Regions from separate parts of the Homo sapiens genome. Here regions 1 and 2 are each linked to region 3. The links come from fine-mapping of genetic effects on gene expression. A gene starts in region 3. Each other region holds a variant in brackets. All regions are shown on one strand. Distances are from middle to middle.

Evidence for each region. PIP is the estimated chance that this variant, and not a neighbour inherited with it, causes the effect.
Region 1: its variant is the best candidate, but not a certain one, in a credible set for the expression of FXYD2 in lung (GTEx, PIP 0.57).
Region 2: its variant is the best candidate, but not a certain one, in a credible set for the expression of FXYD2 in ileum (GTEx, PIP 0.82).

What each region holds. Positions count from the first base shown.
Region 1 is chr11:117,787,377-117,795,454 of GRCh38, reverse strand. The region is part of intron 1 of DSCAML1 (DS cell adhesion molecule like 1); the gene reads left to right. Among named protein-coding and RNA genes, the nearest start is that of DSCAML1, 5.8 kb to the left of the region's middle. The variant C/G (reference allele first, on the strand shown) is at 4,436.
Region 2 is chr11:117,798,062-117,806,139 of GRCh38, reverse strand. It overlaps a transcript of DSCAML1 not described here. Among named protein-coding and RNA genes, the nearest start is that of DSCAML1, 4.9 kb to the right of the region's middle. The variant G/T (reference allele first, on the strand shown) is at 4,381.
Region 3 is chr11:117,820,533-117,828,036 of GRCh38, reverse strand. FXYD2 (FXYD domain containing ion transport regulator 2) reads left to right here and starts at 3,293. Exons shown (of 6, transcript NM_001680.5): 1 at 3,293-3,383; 2 at 5,320-5,358; 3 at 5,557-5,631; 4 at 7,142-7,178; 5 at 7,341-7,371. The coding sequence starts at 3,359. The coding sequence ends at 7,365. It overlaps FXYD6-FXYD2 (FXYD6-FXYD2 readthrough), which reads left to right. Exons shown (of 10, transcript NM_001243598.4): 7 at 5,320-5,358; 8 at 7,142-7,178; 9 at 7,341-7,371. The coding sequence ends at 7,169. RefSeq lists enhancers at 2,447-2,999, 3,000-3,553, 5,216-5,769, 7,451-7,504.

The DNA of each region.
Region 1 (8,078 bases), 33 kb after region 3:
AACCCCAGTCTCCCTCTCCCCAGGTTCTTCCTGCCTCCCTCCGCCCCCGCAGGCTGGCTCGGCTCGCAGCTTTAATTACATTAATATTAAAAATACATAAGGTGAGGAGCGGCTTTCTCTCTCGATAGTTCTCTCTCCAACCCCCATCCCCTTTCGCAATTTGTCAGGCGAGAAAGCACAGGCCGAAGCCGCTGCCACACTCTAGCCCGGCTTTGTCCCCAACTCCCCCATGCCTCCACAACACTCTCTGGAGACATCTTCCAGGACAGCCCATTCCCGGGGAGTGCAGGAGGCCCCTCAGCAAATACCTGAAGGACACTCCCCTCCCCCTTCCAGGAGCCTGGCATTAATAAATGAAGCCGAGCTATTTGATAGGGCGGGAGCAGATGGGGTTGGGGGTGGAGAAAGGCCCAGAAGGCAACAGGACAGCCAAGGGGCAAAATCTTGTCCAACTCGAGATGGAAGTTGCCAGTGGCCTTGGACCTGTAGGCGGGCTGGAGATGCCAGTTGTGGCGGCTCCTCGGTGGCCTTTGGGTCTGCAGAGCCCGGTGCCCCTGCGATTCAGAGGCTCCAGCGTCTGTCTGTTGGGCGCCAGGGTGCCTCGCCAGACAGGCTTTTCTTTTCCTTGGTGCCTTAATTGGGTCTTAGGTGCCAGGCTGGTCCCTGGGGCCTGTTCTGCTTGGGGTGGCGTGGTAGGGGGTGGCAGAGGCGGCTTGGGGGAAGATGTGATGCGGAGACAGCAAGAAAGATGGGGTTTGGAGTATTTTCTCTCCCGTTGCCAGTCACCCCCGCGGCACCAAGGAAAATGTAAATGTGAATGTTCGAGCCTGTTACAGAAAACAATATCCTCTTGCAATAATTTGTACGTCCATCTGTGAGGAGCGGGAGGAGGCAGGGAGAGAGAGAAGAAAACAGGATGAGATGGAGCATCCTTTGGATGGAATTAAGCAGTTATTGAATGTGTTTTAAGCTTCTGTTATTTCCATTCCTCTCAAAATACCTTTTTTTTATGATGCCTGAGCTCAGACTGATTCCCCAGAACTAAACTGGGAAGGTGTTTTAATCATCGGTTATCGAGTCTCCAATAACTGCCTTATTATTGCCAAAACAAATCCAGGTTTAGGCAGCCGGATGAACCCCGGCGAGGCGCTCTCCGTTGTTCCATCCAGCGTGCCAGCATCTGTGTTGCCTGCATTTGCATTTTTACTGTGTAAAAGAACAAGCTTCCCCGGCACTAAAATTCCTGTTTTCTAAAAGCCAAAATAATGGATTGCATTGATTTTTTCATTTCCCACCCCAACTTCTCCGATGGGGACTCATGGTTCTTCTCTCTTGGGAAGACCAAATTAAAAGCCTTCGTCAGGGCATTAAGAAAATCTCCAACATTCTGTTCAGTGTCTAATTAAAAAAAGGGGGGGGGGGCAATGGGGAAATGTGTTTTTAAAATCTTGAAATGGCAAACGCAACTTAGGGGAGGCAGGCGAAGGGCCAGTGAATACTGGGGAGGGGCTGAGTGGCAGAGAGACCCCGGTTGCTAGAATAACATGAGGGAGATTGGCAGGGCCATGATGCCCGACAAGCCTTTCCGACGCTTCGTTTTTCTGGGCATCAAAGCCAGCTGCCTTTAATATATTTCTGCAGTAGAATGGGGGAGCTAATTAGAAACAAAAAACAAGTAAGCAGTAGACCCAAAGGCGGCGCTTAAGTTGAACAGATCCCGGGGGACTGGACAGAGAGGCTTAGTTTTCTTAGGATGAGGATCAGAGAGGATGTGAGCAAGCAGACAGGGCTTTGGCCCAGGGAGAGCTTGGTAGGGAAGCAGGCCCCAAACAGGCTGGCTAGGAGCCCCCAGACACAGGGTCAAGGTCTGTCCAGAGCACCCCATGGACTGTTAGCCTATGACAGAGGGATGCAGACCTCAAGCCTTCCTGACCTTCTCTGTGTCTTAGAGAAGACACATCCTTGCCACTTGCCACTTGCTTGGTACCCTGCTCTGGCTGGTGAAGGATGATTTAATTGTAGATGAAGAGAGGGGAGGGCAGATGCTCAGAGAGTTTTTCTGCAGGGATACGAGTTCCAGGCTGCGAGCTTCTTCCCTCCTCCGTGATCTTGGAGGAGTTGTTTTCTGGGGGACCTCTGAAGTAGTCAAGAGAAGATCCCCTAGTTCCTGAAGCACTTTCTCAGCTCCCAGCCCAGTCGATTCTAGCGGGTACCCAGGTGCATGAATAGGGTGAGCTACAGGCAGCAGCGATGGCAGGGTGCCAGGAACCCAAGGGCACACCCCAGATTTGCATATAATCTGCATATGGATTTGCATGCTCACCTAGCCAGGCCAAAAGCTGTGCCCTCTGTGAGTAGCATCTTGACCTCAACCTCAGTAGCAGCCAGTCATTGGCTTCCTCCTTGCATGGAAGGGGGTGGGGAAGGAGCTGGGAGAAGGACTGCTGTTGGTAATGCTTCTGTCTCCTACATTTTGTTGCCTCCATATGTGCCTCCAGTGCTCAGCACTGGCTTCACCATCTGGCAAGGCAGCCCCAGAGCTCCCACCACCCCTATCCAAGGACAGACAGTGGCACTGGGGATATTGGGGTAGGATGGGTAGCAATGGGCCAAGACACCGTAAGGTAGACCAAACTTGGGATGTGGGTTGCTCCTCTCATGGTGCAGGAAGAAGAGGGTGAAGAGAGGGGCAAACTAGCTATAGAAATCCAGGGCCCGCATTAGATTCCTGGTGGGTGCACCCCTAGAATGCAGGGAGCTGGGTGCCTAGGGCTGCCATCAGCAGGTAGTGAGGTAGTTGCTGATGGCATGGGGGTGTGAAGTGAGGCAGAATGCTCTTTCACCCTCCTGGTTTGTCACCACCTAGCCTGGGAGGTGGTCGTGGCTTCAGAGAGATGAAAGATATAGCACCAGCTTCTCATTCCACCTCCCCTAGGGCAGCTTCAGGTATGTGGGTTGGTTATGGCGGGGCAGAGGGAGGACAGGCACTACAGTCACTGAGGGAAGGGCGTGTCAAGAGCCTGGAGTGATGCTTGAGGAGTGAGCACTTCAGGAGAGCTGAGTGGCCCCTCCCAGCGAGCCAGCTGGGATGCTGCAGTGGGAGTGTGGCCTCGGGAATGGTTTTGTCTGCATTTCCAGGGCCCTGAGAGGATACTACTATGGCAGGTGCAGCTCCAAAGCCTTCCCAGATTATTTTTCTGCATATCCACTGATCCAGAAGGGGCCTGGCCCACCAGAGCCCACAGAGGTTTCCAAGAGATGTGGTATGGAGGCCTAAGGGGTGAGGTGGAGCCTCAGGGGATGGACAGAGGTAGAGAGGGGGAGGGCCAGAGGGCAGAGCTTCAACCAGAGCTTTTATTCATTATCCAATTTCATATATTGGAGTAGAATGAAAAATAAGAAAGGTTGCAACCCACTGGTGTGGTAGAAATTTGGAGTCAAGGCAAATCTTTCATTCACATCCTGGCTCTGCACTTACTGGCCATGTGACTTTGGGCCTCTCTGAGCCCCACTTTCTCCAGCTATGAAATGAGATTAAAGAAGATAATGCATATCAAGTAGCCAGAACATAGTTAGTGCTCAATAAACATTAGACCTCTACTTTTTCCTCTGCATTGCCTCTACCTTCCTCTCCCTGCCCCCTCTCCAGAATGCATCATCAGATCCTTCCCTAAGCAGTTGAATTAATCAGCCACATTTTTGGCCAAGCCAGTTGGCTTAGACTTTATAACAATAAGAAAGACAGAGTAGTGGCCAGGACAGGGGACGTCAACTCCTTCCATCCGTCACCTAGCTGGATAGCATGTAGGACTCCACATGGCTGAGGCCATGTGGTCACCTGAGTGTCCCTGGGGTGCCCAGCACACTTCCTTCCCCTGGCCATCAGTGGAAATGAAGAGGGCTGAAGTTGGCTCCAGACTTGGATTTGAGGTGAGGCAAAGGTTGGTCTCATATCTGCCAAAGGAAGGCTGGGGTTGGTTGTTAAATCTCTACCACGGTTGGCCAGAGTAAGAACTATTCTGGAGTTCATGCCATAAAGCCTGCGTAAGCACTCCTCACAAAGCGAGGGAGCCCTCATAACTGTTGCTGGATGTATTTCTGTGTCTCTCCCTGCTGAGATGAACCTCTATTTTTCAGGCAGTTTTGCATATAGAGAACACTCTTGGCAGCCTGTGACCTTGGGACTGCTCTTCCTTCCATGACCTAGTCTGTCACAGGGAAGCAGCATGTAACCCAGAGGTCAAGTGCTGCCTATGGCAGGCCATGGCCTGTGGGATCCTACATGTTGGGGAGGCTGTGGGCTCCACAGCCTGTGTGCCTTGTTAAACAGATGTTTGTCCTGTGCTGCTTTAGAGTGAACAGCATTAGCCTTGGGGACCACCCATGCCACTCCAGCTGCTACTCCCCTCATTCGTTCAGCTGCCCTGCCCCACTC[C/G]CTGTGCCCTGTCTCTACATGATGCTTGCACTAACAGTTTCCAAGGTCACCATCTTCATTAACAACAATTATTCAAATGCTAGTTAGTTGCATATCCATTAAACTGATTCTAAAGAGATGCATGTGTGTTTGCACGTGCATGTGTGTATGTGTGTCTGTGTGTTGGAAAGAACATTATCCATGGACCTAAAAAACAAAGCTCAGCCTGTCTTACCTGGGCAAGTTGCCTAATGGTTCATGTGCCTTTATTTCGTAATCTGTAAAATGGGCAAAATTACCCCCGTCCTGGCTATCCTACAGAGCAGTTGTTACTGTATATGTGCATAAATAAGAATAAGAGGCATAAAAATGTACATCATGTGACAGTGCTTTGTATACAGAATGAGGCAACATATGAACACACACATGTAAAAACCACAGCAAACCCGTTTTAGCCTTATAAATGCTCTGCTGAAATGTGAGGCATAATTACTGTCATTTCATCATACAGGAACGATGAAGGTCTCACAGCTGTTTGTGGCTGTCTCCCCCTCCGTGGGCCCCAACATATGGAGAATTTTCCTAGCTTTGCTTTTCAGCATCATGGGGAACAGCTGATGAGGCACAGCCAGGCTGGCAATAGTCTTCCTGGAGCAAACTTGGCAGATCCCTTGAGGCCCCAGTGGTAGTGGGAGTGGGAGGAAGCCTACCTCTTCTCCCTCCTCCCATTCCCCTCCAAGGTTCTTAGATGCAAGTGTAGTCCATAGTCCTCTGGACCAACTCCCCCAAAGGGACATTCTCCCTGCAGGGAATCCACAGTCTTTTGTGGGAAGAGCAGTAGGCACAGTCCCATCTTATGTGACCTCATTTAAGGTCACAGTATTCACTGGAATCTCTGAAAACTCTGCCGAGTCGAGACTGGTGGACACCCTGCTACTAGGGTGACCCTCCCGCAGTCGTGGGGTATGAGAGAGGATAGGACCCCTGCGTTGGGGGTGGGAGAGGGAGATTCAGGTGATCACCTTGGGTAAAAGTCTTGCAGGGTTGGAAGGCATCTTTAAGGCTGTGGAATCTGTCCCCTAATCAGAGGCTGACTCCCTCTGCAGCTTTCCCACCCAGTGTCTTTTTCTGTCTTCACTAGCACTTCCTGCAACAGGGACTCCTTCCTTGCAAGGCAGCCCATTCCTGGCCACACAGCTCTGACTATTACAGAGCTCATCCTTAGAATGAGTCAAACCCTGTTGTGGTCTTGGACCTTCTACTCACTGGTCCTGATGTCACCGCTTGGACCACATAGAGCAAGGCAAAGCCCTCTTCCACTTGACAGCCCTGCGACTGTGATAGGCAGATGTCCTGCCCATCTGAGGCCCCTGCTCTGGACACGCAGCATCCCTAGTTGCTCTGATACACCCTCGAATGACATCGTTTCGGTGCTTCATGGTGCTCCTGAGTTCCACAATGGCTAGTTTTCTGACAGCAGGGTGGCCAGAACTGAGAGAACACTGGAGACAGCACTGTAGCCCCAGCTGGGATGCTGGTGAGCTGTGTCCCTGGGGTAGATGACTCCACCTCTCTAGGCCTTGTGAATGGAGGAGATTGGAAAAAATAATCTCTTAAGTCCCTCAAGCATTAACAATCTAAATCTAGGATTCTCTGGGGACAACTGTGCTGTCTGAGCTGACTCCCTGGAAAGAAATTTTGGCCATAAGGGACCTTCCTTTGACAGGCCCTGTCTAGAAAGGGCTGGAAGATTAAAGAGTCTGTCCGACAGTCAGCTGTTGCTCATAACTTCTCCTGGAGCTGATGGCACAGGGCCTTGGAGGTTGAAGGATAGCTGCGTCTCCACTGGACCTCGCAGGTTTCTGGTTGCTGGTCACAGAAACCATGTTTGTGCTAAGAATCTTAAAAACAAACAGCAAAACCACCCATGTTTCTGATGGACACAGGGAGGACACTTGAGCTGTGCTTTGCATGGGGATTGGAAATGGGGAGCGTTTTTTGGTCATCTCAATGACTAGGGTGGGGAGCTGCTGGCGTTTAGTTGGGGGAGGGATGGAATGTCTAATGACAGGGAGATTCCCAGGTAATTCTGAATTATCATACCCCAATTGATCTCTTTTGTCAGAAAATCCCCCCACAGTGTGCTCACACCATGGGGATGGTCTGAATCTAGCCTGTCATGTGCCTGCTGAGCCACACATCCTGGCATAAAGATGTGAAATGCAGCTCTGCCACTGCGAACTGTGCAACACCAAGAAATTATTTGACCTAAGAGCCTGTCTTCTTATCTGTAAAATGGAGTCTTGAGTAGTAGCTACATCCAAGGGCTGTTGTAAGAATTACATGTGCAATAATGCAAGAAAAAGGCTTCCCACCATGCCTGGCACAAAACAAATGCTACAAAGAAATGATGGGGCTGGGCATGGTGGCTCATGCCTGTAATCCCAGCAGTTTGGGAGGCCGAGGCAGGCGGATCACTTGAGGTCAGGAGTTCGAGACCAGCTTGGCCAACATGGCGAAACCCCATCTCTACTAAAAATACAAAAATTAGCCAGGCGTGGTGGTGCACGCCTGTAATCCCAGCTACTCAGGAGACTGAGGCAGGAGAATCGCTCAAACCTGGGAGGTGGAGGTTGCAGTGAGCCAAGATGGTGCCACTGCACTCCAGCCTGGGTGACAGAGCCAGACTCCGTCTCAAAACAACAACAACAACAACAAAAACAAAAACAAAACAACAACAACAAAACAAACCAAAAAAACCAAAAGATGGCACTGTGATGGGGAAGGTAGTGGTGGAGCAGGTGTGCCAGATTGGGTGGACATCACAGGCAGAGAGCATGGGACTTGGCCCGCTGCTTCCTCTTGTCCAAGGACCATACCAGCTCAGGCTGCCTGGTACATGCTCTGATGCTGTCTGGGAAACTCAACCCTCTCCTTGCCAGTGTCTGGGCTCAGACAGTTTCCAAGATGCAACATAAAGGGTTTTTAGTGAAGCAGCAAGACACCGTCTGGCTGGTCCTCCTCTGGGTTTTGAATGGACTTGGTGGGTGAGCCGGTGGGAGGATCACCCTACTGGTTGATCCTCTCTAGAACCAATTTTTCCAACTCTGGGATGAGAACAATCAGAGTGAGGGCACATAACACATCTCCCATGAAAACCTTTGTGTGGAAATACAGTGAAGTAATCAACCTTGCAAATCAATCCAAGAAACCTCTCCAGCTCACATCTGCATGAAGAACTCTGCGTAAGGCCTGGGAATTAGCAAAAGCTGTGTGGCTACTGCAATGCTCTGTTGCTATTGATTCTACCACTGTTGTTTTCTTATCTTGATCTCCAAATTAAGTTAATTAATGTGGTGGTAGGGTCTTGTCAGCCAAGCAGATGACAATTGTCTGTCGTTGGGAAAGGAAGTATAGAAGTCCAGGATGGCAAATCTACTTTTCCAAAGGACTGTTACTCTCAGTATAGACAGAGGACACCAGTCTCAGAAATAGAATTTCTGGCCCTATGACAGACTTGGTGAATCTGTTATCTAAGGCTCTGCATTTTTAACAAGCTCTCCAGGTGATTCTTATGCATACTGATGTTTGAGAACCACGGTTTTAGGTTATTATTATTATCATCAGAGGTGAGCAGTAAATATTTGTTGCACAAGGATTCACT
Region 2 (8,078 bases), 22 kb after region 3:
ATCATAGCTTCATTCGACAAACAGTCATCAAAGACCTGCCTTGGGTACTGAGGATGGAGTGGTGAACAAGGTGGGCAAGAGTCTGAAGGCAACAGGGCCTAGGAGGGAGGTAAACACCACTTAGCTGAGCGCAGGCCAGGCGGTCAGGAGCCCTGGACCTAAGCCCTGACTCTGCCATGTGACCTGGGACGCCCTTCACCTGCCAGCCACTGTTTCCTAGGCACTTGCAGGAGATGCTCCCCAGGTCCCTTCACACTCTGACCTGCTGACTCTGAGCATGTAGGCTTCCCTGTGTTGCTCTTTAAACATCTTCTACTCCACTGGAATGCAAGCTTCCTGAGGGCAGGGACTCTGTGCTAGACTTTCCAGGGATCGGGGAACTCCTTGCACAGGGGCTGGGCACAGAGTTGCCAAAAGAATGAGTAAACCAACAAAATGTACTTCCTTTAGGCCAGGTGTGGACCAGAAACAGTGAAAGAACAGAGTTTTTAACCAGGAGAAGTGGGAAATGGATCCCCCAAAACCTCATACTGTAGCACTTGGAGATTGACAATGCCCACCAGCGTGTTAAAGCCTGCAGTAAAAAACAAAAACAAAAACAACTCCCACAAAAACCTATTTACCTTTGATTATTCCACTGTTTTCCAAACCTATTTGACCATAGATCAGTTTTTGCACCTTACCTATTACCTTCTCATGAAACACTTGTGAAATGCTATGTTAGATCTTTTTCTGTTTTCTGCTGGATTTATCAAAAATAAGGTCAAGTTTGGTAAAGATGCTGGGTTTCAATGTCATTGTGGCCTGAAATGGGAACCTTATTGCTGCATTCTTAGCTGAGCTCTGCCACCCTCACTGGGGCTGGGCTAGGACCTTAGATGACATTCTGAGTCACCCATTGTGTAAGTAAGTGCCATTTGACCCAGGCAACACCCCATTTCCCAACTTTCACCAAATGATGAATGGGATCATGTTTTCTCTCAAATAATCCACATCAGGATTACAGGCCAAGGAGGCCAGTTCAGTAGAAGTTCGTGGGATAGTGGTCCAGAGTGATTGGCATGTCAGCCCAGGAAATCCAACAAAACATTGGACAACAGTAAGAGAAGATCAGCTACCTACTGAGGGGGTGATGGCGCTGGACTGGAGCTGCTCAGACCTCATCCGGATTCATGAGTCTATTCTGTTTTAAGAGAGATTTTTTTTTTCTTTTATGAGACAGAGTCTGTCACCCAGTCTGGAGCACAGTGGTACAATCACAGCTCACTAACATCCTCAGCCTCCCAGGCTCAGAAGATCCTCCCACCTCAACCTCCCGAGTAGCTGGGACTACAGGCATGCACCACCGTGCCTGGCTACTTTTAAATGTTTTTGTAGAGATGGGTCTCCATGTGTTGTCCAGGCTGGTCTTGAATTCCTGGGCTCAAGTGACCCTCTCACCTCAGCCTCTCGAAGTGCTGGGATTACAGGCGTGAGCCACCATGCCCGGACGAGATATTGCTAAAGTTGAATATAAGCAAAGAGGGAAACCAGAATAGGGAAAGGTCTAGAAATTATGTCAGAAAAGAAAAAAGATACGTAGCCTGGCAAAAGGAAGGTGTGGGGGCCTGCGGTAGCAGTTCTTGAATATTTGAATAGCTGTCATTTTGTCCAGATTGGGCACATCTTTTGAACTCCAGAAAGCTAAGGCAGATTTGGGCTTGATAAAGAAAAGCATGTGTACATGACTGTGGACAGTGAAATTAGATAAACTTCTGTGTGGGGAGCAAGCCCCTTTTCCCTGGCAGCATTTGAGAGACTGAGTTGACACCTGTTGGGTCGGTGTAGAAAGCCAGTGGGTATGAGATGGGGCCAGGTGAGCTGAGCTCTAAGGCACTGCCCCCTCTCAGATTCTGTAACTGAGGGGCCAACATTCCCCGTGGTCTCCAGGCAATGTCTTTGTTCAGCCTCACTGTCCCAAATTGCAGCCCACTCACCACTGGGGCACCCCAGGAGCCGTGGCTTTGGCCTCCAGCAGGTGGAATTTCTGGGCCGCACATTTCTCCTGCTCAGAGTGGCTGGAGGACTTGCTAGTGTTTTGTAGCAACTCCTGGACTTTGAGGAGGGTCTCGGTCCACAATGCTGGTGGCCAGTCACAGTGACAGGAGGGATGCTGCCCTGCAGAGAGACCGTGGAAGGCGTTACGGCAGCACCAAGTTGTCTCCCATCCTGAGATCCTCCAGCGCATGGACTGGCAAGTCCAGCCTGTGGTGAAATGGGCAGACTTTCTAGGAAGAGAACTTTCATCATCTAAGTCAAGGTCACCACCATGGGCCTGGGCCTTGACTTTCTCTTCTCTGGGGAGGAAAATCTCTCCAAGGGGGCTTCTGTGTGAACAGCACTGTACAAATACATGATTGACATACAGACTTAAGACCTCTGAGGCAAGCGGGGAGCCCTGACCAGAATCCAGAGAACCTGGTCCCCAGCCACAGTGTAACCCAAGGAAAGTTCCTGGGACGGATTCAGGTTTTGCAGGGCTGGAAGCTTAGACCATTGAGGGCTGGAAGCTTAGGCCTCACTAAGGAAAACAATACACAATTATGAATACAAAATTAGATACAAATATGATCATTAATATATTAATAATCAAATGTGATTATTAATTTAGAAAGATAAAAAGAAATTGCAACAAGTTACAAATCTTGAAAAAACTGACAAATGCCATCATGAAATCCAGACAGATAACATAATATTTGTATTAACTGACACACCTCAAAAATGCTTTCTAAATTAAAAAAAATTTTTTTACGTTACTTCTGCTCACAGCTTTACATAAGCTGGCTTTTGGCTCCATGCATTTCAAACCTTGTCTTTCCTATGCTACACACACACCCCTGGTGCAGGCACCTGAGGCCACAGTTATACTGTGATACAACTTCTGGTTCTGCAACTTCATGTCACAAAGCGCAGTGAGCTGGCCCAGTCGGTGATAGGAGTGTTCCTGCAAGCCATTCCCTATCCTGGAAGTACGTGCATGGCCTGTGAACCATATAAATACATTCCACCAATCCCAAGCCAGAGTCAGATCCCCCCAAAATGTTCACCAGACCCACCGAGAAGCCAGAGCAGAAAAGGGTAGCAGCTGTGATTGACAGTAGTTAAACTCTATTATTCTACAGTGTTTTCATATCTGACCATGTGAACACATTACTAGGGCCCTAAAGGAATCTGAAGCTTGAGCTGTGTAAGTGTCATGGTATTAAACATCCCAAATATGCCTCTGGGACTCCTCTGACTTTGTGTCTTCATCTATATAATGATCAAAACAATTCTGGCATATGTATCCAGATCCTTTTAGGTGAGAATCAGAAATGGACGAAAACATAAAGCCTCTGGAACCTAGAGGCGCTGCCTACAAGGTCAAGATGACAACTGTGAAGACCACAGTGATGCGGGCTCAGCAGGAACTGCTGAGACTTCTTTGGTTTTAGGGGTCAGCACTCCTGCGGGGTCTAATGTCCTGCCAAATGCTCACTCTTAGAGACGAGAAACTCCAATACGAGAACTTTCAAGCTTAAGGCTTTGATCCTAGTTAAGGGACATCTCTCTGGAAGGCATGGCACGTGAGGCTGTAATCAGATATCTGCTACCTTATAAGAATGAGCCCATCTGGTCATTAAATCAACACTTACTGAGTGTACCCCTAGAGCCAGGAGGCACCAGGCTAGGGCCTGCAGGTACAAATCGAAAGGGTCGGAGCCCAGTGTCTAGAAGAGGAGACAAGTCAGACACATGCCTAAATAGCCACAATTCTAGACAAAGGGATGAGACCCATGGGCCAAGTAGATGTCTGAGGCAGTGGGAGACCAGAGGAGGCCTGGTCAGGGAAAACTGGGGGTGCCTGACCAGGCCCTGCTGAATGGGAAGCCTTAAACAGGTGAAAAAGGGGGGCACTGGGTACTTGAGAAAGGTGAAGGTTTTCCAGTGTAGAAGACACTTTCATAAAATTTGATAAGCACATTTGTGAGTGACACATGGGCCAGAAGAAATGCCGGAAGACTTGGGAAGCCAGCAAGTTTAGCTCTGCTCATTGCACTTTCTTTTTTTTCCTATCTCTCTTAGTTTCCATACCTTCCACCCCACTGCTCCCCAGAGAGAAATGTGACAATGAGCTTCAGCTCTGTCGAATCCGGACTACATGGAACCTCTCTGGGTTGGCTTCTCAACCGATTTCAGAGTTGTGAGCTGAGAAAGAACAGCAGGAGAGAGGCCACAGTTATTCAGGGGACTCCTGCCTTGCTGGGGGCTTCCGCAGCCCCTGACCAACCATCCTGGTGTCACTGCTGAGACAGCAGCCTGAACAAGGGCAATGGGACCCCAGAGACTGCATCTGTACAG[G/T]CGGAGCCCCAGGGCTTTAGACCCTTTGCTCCAGTGATCTTAGAGCCATAATATTATCATCCAAAATGATGAGAGAGTAAGTGGCAAGCATACCTAGACATCTTCTGAGCCCAGCAGACAGAATTTTGGTTTAAGGAGAACCTGGGTAGTATAATGACACATAATATTTTTTTATATATAGGCATCACAGTCTATGAATTGTACTGATTCATCTCATCTCAAGAAGATGGTATTTTAGATGTATGTGTATATATTTGAAGCCAAAACTGTTTATTTTGTGTAATTTTTTGTGCCTATTAGTTTCTGAATATCTGTGCATAAAAGCTTCTGTTTCTCTGCCTGCACACATTTGTGGGTACACACTATACACCTATGTGGGGTAGGAGGGGGGAATGGGCATATTTGTTTGCATTTACCTTGTGTTTGGTCCTAGGAAGGGATCTTGGTGATCATTCCAGCCCAGCTCTTTCACCTCAATGGTGAAGAAACTGAGGTCCAGAAAGGCAAGGTGACTTGTCACAGGTAACACAGCTGGCTATGGAGACAGAGGTGACACAAGAACCTAGGATTTCTGATTTGTAGATGAGAACTCTTTCTATAATATTAAAATCAATTATAAATTTTGGGGAGGGAAGCAGGGAGATCCTTGTTTTTTCCTCCCCCAACTGATAAGTAAGTACTAAGAAGGTCAATCTTGAATTAGCTATATAATACCAAAAGTTAAGTTTTTCACACAGACCTGGTTCAGTATTGATTCCTTTTATGAAAACCCTGTTTATACTCAAGTTGTCAAAGAATTCCAGAGGGCATATGAAGCCATTGTTAAAATAATTTTATGCCTTTGTTTTTGAAGAAAAGTATCCAAAATATATAAGCTTATTGTTTGAGTTAAACAATAAAAACATCTGCTGTTTCTCAGGATGGCTCTAGTCTTAATATAACATGGCAAAATAATACCCCCTAAATATCCATGATTAACCTGAATTGGAGAGGGCTCAGCTCCCAGTGACTTCATATAGCTGCTTCAACTGGCATTGTTTAAAAAAAACAAAAACAAAAGCACAAAAGCCAAAATACAGACAGATCATCACCCAGCATTCTGATGCAAGAAAATATTAAAACTGATCACTGCTTTTAAATGGGTAGTGTGTCCCTACTAGAAAGGAATCCCACAAATTTGAGGCTTAAAAAAATGGAGCATATGCATAGGTGCCAATGCAGAATTTCTGGATTGGGTTCAAATCACATTGAAGCACAGGTGTGCCTGTCATTAGGTGTTTATGTTTACCTGTACACATGAATGTTTGCCTGGGCAACTGTGTTTGTTCTCACTCTGGCATGAATATATTTGTGTGTGGGTGTGAAGTTTTCCATATAATTTTGGGAACTGTCCCTTCTATCAAAATATAGCCCCTCTAAAATGTCAGCTGGGGAGGGGACTGTCAGGGTTTAAGGTGGGCGTGGGGTAGAACACGCCGCCTGACTCTCTTCCCCGGCGTTTCATTTTTCCCTTGGGATTTCCTGGCATGCTGGCTTGCCCACCCCAATACAACTCCTGTCGAAGAGGAGACTTCTAAATACATCTGAGCCAACCTGTCATTTTCAAAGACATTTCCCTAGATACTAAGGAAGAACAAAATCAATGGGAAACACAAAAAGCATGAGGCCTGACCTGCCTGTTTTTCAGGTCCTTCTTTTGTTAGCCATCTCTCCAGGCTCTTCCGCCTCAGTGTGCACCTTCCGTGTTTCTGCAGCCCCTTTCCTGGATTCCCAGCTCCTTGGCTCTGGCTTTGTCACAGCATGGAAGGCACAATATCGTCCCAGCATTCCCCCAGTGGAGCTGTTCCCTCCTCCCAGTTCCCACAGGTCAAGGTCCTTGTGAGCAAAGCTGTTCCCATTCATGGTAGTTACCTGTGCTCACTATGCGTCAGCCATGGGGCTTGTCTTATTTAATCCTCGCTACGACTTTCCAAGGCAGATGCTGGGGATGTCCCCATTCCACTGGTAAGGAAACTGCAGCTTGGCACACATACATTTCCCAGGCACACAGCTGGCAAGTGGCAGAGCTGGGCTGAGGACTCATCTCCTGCTGTTTCCAAAGCCAGGCTCTTAACCATGACATTAGAAAGCTTCCTTTTGCCAGAGGGGGTCCCCAGGTCTGCTCTCCCCAACTGACCACCCGTTTATTTCCACGTATATGTCTCCTCCCGGGACAGCCAGACTGCAGTCACCGGCACAATGAATGACCTCGCCCTTCGGGTAACACACATGTTGTGGTTCTTTAAAGCCCCCTGTGTATAACTAGCATAAAGCCTCCTACACTCAGGTTGTAGGAGGTACTTGGGGTGGATGCAAAGAAGAGGGTCCACCGCTACTTCCAGCGTGTGAGGCACGGAGCAGCTGTGCCGCTACCCCAGGCCCACTCAGATCCCCTCCCAGCAGACAGCAGCCCCTTTCATCCTGTCTGCCTTAGCGGTTTATTTTAGGCATGACCTGACCAGGTGCTCTGGGTCAATAGGCTTAGTTTTAAATAACTGGATTCCTCTCAATGACCGTTCCCTTTAGAAGGGAGGGGGCATGGTAGAAGAATAAGCCAGCAGGCTGAGGGCGGTGAGAGATGGGAGCTAAGACAGAAGACTGGAAACGTGAGGGCTCTGTCACTCCCTGCGTGACCTCGGGGAAGGCTCATGGCTTCCCCACTCTGGGCCTCAGTTTCCTTATCTGTAAAGCAAAAGATCGGTCTGGGTCATCTCAAACACCCCCTGCAGTCTGTCCCCCCGTCTCTGTTCTATGCCTGTGTTTCCAGATGACAAAACACCTCCTGCAAATTGTTTCAGGGTGGTGATTTTGCATGAAGAGCTGAGCCACCGAGGGATGCTGCAGCTTATAGAGCAAGCTCTGCTCTGGAGTCGGGAGGCCTGGGTTCTAGTCTTGCTTCTGATACAACCTTGGTGGCCTTGAACAAGTTAAGCCCCGATTTTCTCACCCGTTTAAAGGACGAACCTTGAAAACATTATGCTGAGTGAAGTAAGCCAAGCACAAAAGGATACATACTTTATGATCTCACTTATGAGGTACCTAGAATAAGCAACTTCATAGAGACAAAGTAGAATAGTGGTTGCCAGGAGCTGGGGGAGGGGAGGGGAAGGGGGAGTTATTATTTAATGGGTGCAGGATTCTGTTTGGGATGATGAAAAAGTTTTGGAAATGGTAAGTGATGATGGTTGCACATCGTGAATGTATTTAATGCCACAGAATAGTACACTTCAAATGGTTGAAATGGTAAATTTTATGTTATGTACATTTTAACATATTAAAAAACACACTTTTCAAAATTTAGTTAAAATTTCTAGGGATATTTTGGCAAAACCTGGGAGTGAGGAGTCCCAATTCTCCCATGTGAACTTAGGCCGCACATTTCGAGGAAGTAAATTTTCTTCCTCTGGCAAATGCAGCTAGCCAGTGGACCCCTTCTCTCCCTCCAAACTTCGCACTCCACACCTTAGAGTCTGCCCAGGTACAGCCCAATTGTCAGGGCATACTCAAAGCAGCTTCCATGACCCTGCAAAGGGAGCTACAGTCCTGGCTCATAGGCCATTCTCAGGGATACCTGGATCCCTTCTCTGGGTTCTATGTATCCTCTTATTTTGGAATTAAGACGAAAGGAGGGCTTTCCAACCATATTGACCTTTTACAGC
Region 3 (7,504 bases):
GGACACAACCAGCAGCTCCTGCCATGGACAGGTGGTACCTGGGTGAGTCCTCTGAGCCCCATTCCTCCTCCCTGCTCAGGCTCTAACACAGGTGCCAGCCCCGTCCCTTTCAAGTGCACCCACAAGCTCCCCAGAAGTGCAGGAAAAGCAGAAAGGAAGAGAGGCAGAATTTCCAAAAAAGAGCATCTCCATACGGAGTCACTGGCCTGCTGTAACGTGTGTGCAGAGCATATCTGAGCTGCGAGGGCTGGGAAGGCAGCTGTCCAACTGCCTCATTTACTTGTCTGTCCATCCGTCCCTTAGAGATGCAGGAACTCAGAAGCCAGGCTGCTGGCTTGAAATCTTGGTTCCCCTACCCTCTGGCCATCTGACCTCTGGCAAGTTATTTAACTTATCTGGGCCTCAGTTTCTTCCTCTATGAAATGGGGTGATAATAATGCCTTCTTTACCTTCTAAAACTCATTGTGATGACTAAAGAATTAATTTCTGGCCAGGCATGGTGGCTCACGCCTGTAATTCCAGCACTTTGGGAGGCCAAGGCGGGCGGATTATCTGAGGTCAGGAGTTCGAGACCAGCCTGACCAACATGGTGAAACCCCGTCTCTACTAAAAATACAAAACTAGCCAGGCTTGGTGGCACATGCCTTTAATCCCAGCTACTCAGGAGGCTGAGACAGGAGAGTCACTTGAACCCGGGAGGCGGAGGTTGCAGTGAGTCGAGATCGCACCATTGCACTCCAGCCTGGGTGACAAGAGCGAAACTCCGTCTTAAAAAAAAGAATTAATTTCTGTAAAGTGCTTGAAACGGTGCCTTGCACACAGAGTTTAAAAATGTAGCCATCAACTAGCTTTCCCTATTGCTTCCTATTCATCTATCTATTGATCGATCTATCATCCATATCTATCTATCTATCTATCTATCTATCTATCTATCTATCTATCTATCTATCTCTCTATTTATCTATCTATCCATCCATCTGTTGGTGCCTCCCCATGCACCTCCTCCCCCCCGCAGTGGGAGCCCTTCCATCCACACTGCAGCTTTGTTTGTGACCAGGGTAAATATTACCTGGCACTGTTAATGTTTAATGCCCCCACCTCATCCCCAGCCACCCCACCAAGGAGCAAAGACAGCAGGAAGAGGCAAGTGGAGACAGTCCATTTGGGTGGGGAAATGACTGGGTTGTCAATGGATAGATAGATAGATAGACAGATAGATAGATAGATAGATAGATAGATAGATAGATAGATAGATAGACAGACAGACAGACAGACAGACAGATGAATTTATTTAACTTCCCACTTATTTTTACATCTCTTATTATTCCCGAAAGACTCCATGGAGGCTTACAAATACAGACCAAATGCAATAAGATAACACAATCCTGTATAATAAAGGGAGCACCCTTGTCTTGTGTGGAGATGGCAGTAGCTTTGGTAGCACATCTTGGAGGATCTGGGCTTTCTACCTCCAGTTTGCCATTAACTGTGTGTTTCAGGCAAGTCCCTTCACCTTCCTGCCCTCGTTTTTTCTGGTGTACCCAGTGCCCTGGCCACGTCCAGGGGCTATTGTGGAAAGCAAATGAGCAGCCTCAAGTTTCTTTATCTGTAAAACGCCATTAGTAGGAATTAAGTGATGCAGTGCATTCCAAGAGCCTGGCACGTGGTCCATCTTCACCAAACGCTGGCTCTGCTGTGATGTTTGCACGAATATATATTTCTTGGCTCCAGAAGCAGAAGGGAGCTGAACGGGTATTGCAGCGCCTGATCTGCAGGGCCATGCCATTCTCTCCGTCTCACTCATTCGTGCCCATTTTCATTGGAGGGTGGCTGGCTTTTCCATGTCCAACAGCAAACATTTGCCAAAGGCTAATGCTTGTCATTTCTTCAATCAACACACATATAACAGTAAAAATGATGCCACTCACCGTGTGCCAGGCCCTGGGATATGCTCTTTGCATGCATTATCTCACTTCCCCTCACCACCACCCTAGGAGCTGGGTACTGCGCCCATTTTACAGATGAGGAGACTGAGGCACAGAGAGGTGAAGTCATTGACTGAGACCACACCATTAGCAAGTGAGAGGGCCAGGGTGTGAACTCAAGTGCCAAGCCCTGCCCCTGCTTGGGGAGGATTCATGGATACAGTGGCTCCCTTCAGAAGGGCTCAAGCTCCCCTGCTGTCCGCTGGCCACTGACCTTGGCTGTTTTGTGGCCATTGGGCTTCAGCCTTTTCTGGAGGCCAATTCAATGGACTAGAACTCAACGAGGATTCTACAGTACCTGTGACTACCCGGCACAGGAGTCCTGGGGCGAAGGAGGTCACAGCGGAGTGGGGAGGCTGCCTGCGAGGTGTGGAAAGCATCTGCCTCCTGCAGCAGGAGGCCTGATTGTCAGTCTCCACTTCCCCCACACTGGCTGTGTGACCCTGGGCAAGGCCCCTACCTCTCTGTGCCTTAGACACCTGCCTCATCAGTAAAATGGGAAACATAAAGCTTGAGGAGAAAAAACAGTGAGGAAAGTGCTTGGTAAACCATAAACGCAGGGGGTTTTCCCCACGATGAAAGTCTTGCCCTGTCCTTAAGGATCCTGCATGCTCCATGGTAAACTGGCAAGGACACAATCCGAGAGCCAGGCCAAATGGTGGTAGGAGGAAGTGCCAGGGCGGCAGGGAAGGAGAAATTAGTTGGGGATGACTGAAGCCCTTCTGAATGAGGTGTAACCTGCAGGGTGCACGTTGATGGGTGAATAGGATGACAGATGAAGGGCCCTTCTGGAGGATCTACTGCTGGTCAGCTTTGGCGGTGCTCCAGGGATGTGGTGGGGGAGCAGTGGGCCAGGCTCCTAGGGACCACTGCAGGAAAGCCTCCAGTACCACATAAGGAACACCAGCTGCAGCGGCGGCATCCATGGTGGCTGGTGCGGTGGGCCCTGCCTGGGCTGGGGGCCACTGTGGGCCACTGCCCCCAGAAACTCCCAAGTACAGTGTACACTGAAGAGATTGTGCAACTTCCACTTTCCTGTTCCCACCGCCCCAGCTGTAGCTTCCCCAGCTGGCAGAACAGCACGACTGCTGACCCATCCCAACCCTTCTCTTTGGAAATTTCCTTTGGGAAGGTTTGGAAACTCAGCCAGCTCCTCCCTGCCCCTGCCTCCCCACGCACGTCCTCACCCTGCAGAAGGAGCCCCTCCATCCACACTGCAGCTTTTCTTGTGACCAGGGTAAATATTACCTGGCACTGTTAATGTTTAATGCCCGCACCTCGTCCCCGGCCACCCCGTGGAGGCAGCCAGACACTCTCCAAAAAGCAGAGACAGCAGGAAGAGGGGAGTGGAGGCAGCCCATTCACCTGGGGAAATGACTGGGTTGTCGATGGACGGTGGTGAGTGTGCTGGTGTGCGTGCCCGGGCGTGTGCAATGCTGGGTGGCTCTGATTGGCCTGCCTTTGTGGGGTCAGCTGGACCCTACTCTTCCCTCTCCTGCCACCTCAGCCTTCCAGAGTACCCAGCCCCTCTTCCTGTCGGCCTCCTCTCTAAGAAAATTTGCAACTTAAAGGAGGACCCTGCTTTAACCCCAAAGAAAGATAGCTTGAGTGGCAGAAAGGCAGCAGATAGAAGCTGGAGAGCTGAGCGTTCCTCCTCGGCCTCCTGGCACACACCCGCCCTGAGTTCAATGCATCTTGCTAGACCGTCTGAACTTGGGCGGGAGGCAGACGGCGTCCATCTGGCTGGGGAAGGAGCAGGCCCCTCTGGTCAGCCTTCCTAGGCTGGATTTGGGGTGAGAGCCCGCCAAGTTCAAGTCACACTCTCCAAAGGCTTCCTGTCACAGGAACTGACTCAGGCCTGGAAACCAAGAGGGGCACTTGCTGACAGAGGTGGGTTTTGAGCCAGATGCAGAAAGGGGAGGGTGCTGGGCAGGGAGGGTCTCAGCAAGCGGCTCAGGGCCAGGTGGCCACGGAGGAGGAGGTTTCCTGGGGCGTGTGGGGAAGCCTCAGCTGGCGTCTAGCTGTTGCTCTGACACTTAAATCCCCATATGACCTTAAACAAGGCCTGAACCAAATCTGGGAAGACAGCCCTGACGGCCTTCTGTGTGGGACCTGGGTCCTTCATGGCCTCCCTGAGCACCCAGCACCTCAGGCCCGTCAGGATGGGCACTGACTCTTCCTGGCCTGTCCTTTCCTGGCCCAGGGACTGGCCGCTGGGGACAGCTGGGCTTGACAGACCCTAAGTCTCACTGCTGCTCAGGGGCACAGTTTGGCACAGCCCGGAAAGTGCTAACTTGCGCGTTCCTTCCTCCTCGGGCTCCACTTCCCTCGTGCGAGAAGGGGCTCCGGCAGGGCAGGAAAGAGTAGCGGCCCTTAGCTGTGGCAGAAGCGTCCTGGCCAGGCCACCGTCTGGCTGTCCGGGGCAAGTGTACTCAGTTGCAGGGCACCACTGTGAGACCTGCCTGCTGAGCGGCTCCAAATCCGGGGGAGGCCACCAGAGGCAGGGGCAGGACCTTACCTCTAACGGGCTCCTTCCCTCCCGCCATTGAGAGGTGGCAGATCAAAGGGCTTATGCACCTCCATTCTCAGCCCCCTGCTTCCTGGGTTCAAACACCAGCTCTACCCCTGACTTGCTGTATAACTGTGGGGGAATTTCTTCTCTGCACTTCCACCCTCTTGTGGATTACACCAGAATGACATTGACGCCTCATAAGGTTGCCATAATGGTTAGATGAGTTAGGGTTTGTTAGTTTTTGCCCGGTGCCTGACCAGCACTATATATTAATGTTTCTTAACTAGATCTGCTTCCCCTGAGGATGGTAACGCAGGAAAGGAGGTCTGTCTCAGCTTTCATTAGGACTTTGAACAAGTCTACACATTGGGCTCGGCTTCCTCCTTCTGTCTGATAAACTTTAAGGTTCTGTTTTATTTATTCATGCATTTCCCAAATAGCTGCTAAGCACCTGATAGCCAAATGGTCCTGTGGAGAGAGGCCGCTGGGAGTCTAATGGGAGAGGCTTCTCCTGGCCTTTTCTACCATGGTAGGAATCAAGGAGCAGGAGAGAGCCACCCTTCCGGAGTGGTCAGAGGCCCCCCAGACAGCACGGATCCCCCTCGGACACTCGGTATTTGGTCCCCAGTTGAGCGTGTCTGAAGCCGCCTGGAGCAGAAGCCTGCTGGCAATGGTTTTAGCAACACCCCTGCTCCCAGCCTCCCCTCGCCTGCTTGGACCCTCGAGGGTCCTCTGGGAAGGGAAGGACAGGGAATTCCAGCTGTTCCTGTGGCTGGCTCACCATCGGTGACTCCTCTCATCCCACCTCTGGCTCTCTCCTAGGCGGCAGCCCCAAGGGGGACGTGGACCCGTTCTACTATGGTAAGCCTGGGCCCCTGCGCACCCTTCCTGAGCCCTCAGGACCCCTTCCACCAAGCAGCGGCCTCTCCCAGCCCCAGGTCCATGCTCTGTGCCCCTTATCTCCCCTGGTTACCACGGGCTGCTGCGGGCAGGCTGCGGAGAGAGACAGCTGCTGGGAGAGACCACCCATCCCGCTCCTCTTGCCCTCTCTTTCCGGAGACTATGAGACCGTTCGCAATGGGGGCCTGATCTTCGCTGGACTGGCCTTCATCGTGGGGCTCCTCATCCTCCTCAGTAAGTGGGGTGGCCTCCAGGGAAGGGGTGCTGACCAGGGCACCTCTCTTCTCAAGGCCGCTGAGCAGGCTGGCTTTCGGGAGTTGCCAAGGGAGGGGTGAGCCTCCCCACCACGCCCCCCACTGCAGGATGTGGGAATGGGTGCCCGGTGGGGTGCCAGGCTCGCTGGGAGCACAGTGTGAGGTTCCTGCTTGCTCAAGTGCACCCTCCAGTGGGCCCGGGAGGAGCCGCAGAAGTGAGAGCAAACCCACGGGGTAACTGGGTAACCGGAGGGCCAGACAGGGGGACTAGGCCCCCCGCTGCTAACCATGGTCCCAAACTCATTTGTTAAATAGGGATGATCCCACCTGCCTCACAAGATTAGGGCTAGCATCCAAAGACATGGCAGTCAGGACAGCGCTCTGAGAACGGTCCAGTGCAGACTCGGAGTGTTCTGGGGGAGACAAAGAGAGTTATGTATCCTCAAGCCCCGAGGGGCACACAGCAGGAGCTTAATAACTGCACATTGACTTGTTTTGGTCCAACCCAAAGAAAAATACACAGAAAACACAACCCATGGAAAGAAGATACAGCAAGCACACCTGTGGGCTCTGGACTTCTAATGCACGTGTGCCACTGCCACCCCACCCCAAGGCTCGGGCCACAGTCCTGCGGGTCTCCCCATTTTCCCGTGTTGCCCATGGCAGCTCTCTCTACGTGTGCCACTGCCAGCCCACCCCAAGGCTCGGGCCACAGTCCTGCAGGTCTCCCCATTTTCACATGTTGCCCGTGGCAGCTCCCGGAGGGCAGTGCCGGGTGGCAGCTGATCACATAGGCACAGGAGGCAGGTGGCCTAAGCAAGGGGCTCCACTTTGGAGTTGCTGCCATCCTTCTCCAGGTGTTCATCGGGCAGCTGTGCTGGGGGCACCATGATGGCCCAGTCTCTGCTGCTACTCTCGATATGCCAACAGACCACCGTGGATCTGCTCCAGTAAATATTTGCTGACTGACTGACTGACTTAGGTTCTTAAATGCCTATGGTCCAGCCTTATATAAAGAGAGAGAAGGCTGGGCGTGGTGGCTCATGCCTGTAATGCCGGCATATTAGGAGGCCAAGGCAGGAGGATCTCTTGAGACCAGGAGTTTAAGACCAGCCTGGTCAATACAGTGAGACCCGATCTATACAAAAAAAAATTTTTTTAATTAGCTGGGCATGGTGACATGTACCTATAGTCCCAGCTACTTGGGAGGCTGAGGCAGGAGGATTACTTGAGCCCAGGAGTTTGAGGCTGCAGTGAGCTACGATCCCACCACTGCACTCCAGCCTGGGTGACAGAGTAAGACCCCGTCTCAAAAAATAAAATAAAATAAAATATAAAATAAAATAGAGACAGTCAAACGTGGCCTCCAAGCCTGACCCTGCGATGATACTGGCAGGAGGGAGGTAGGAGAGACTGGAAGAATTTTGAGTCTTCCAGGGTCTCCTTGGAAAATTAGTCCATGGAAACAAATCTCCTTTTCTCTTTTCAAGGCAGAAGATTCCGCTGTGGGGGCAATAAGAAGCGCAGGTGAGCGCTGCCTGGGGTGACCGATGAGGGGGTTGGGGCTGGAGAAGGAGGGGCGGGCTGAGGATTTTGTCTCTGACACAGTGGAGGATCCCCAGCCTCAGAGATCCCTAGACCCACCCCTCCCCCTGCCCTCTCACCTGTTGCTTTTCCTTCCCCCACCAGGCAAATCAATGAAGATGAGCCGTAACAGCAGGTATGCTAGGAGGGCCTGGGGAAGGTGCGGGGAGGGCAGGGCAGGCTTGGGAGCAACAGGGAAGAATTCTGGCTCCTGGACTCGGTAAATAAGAATTTTAGGGTCGTCCACACATCAGCCAGGTGGTCTGTCA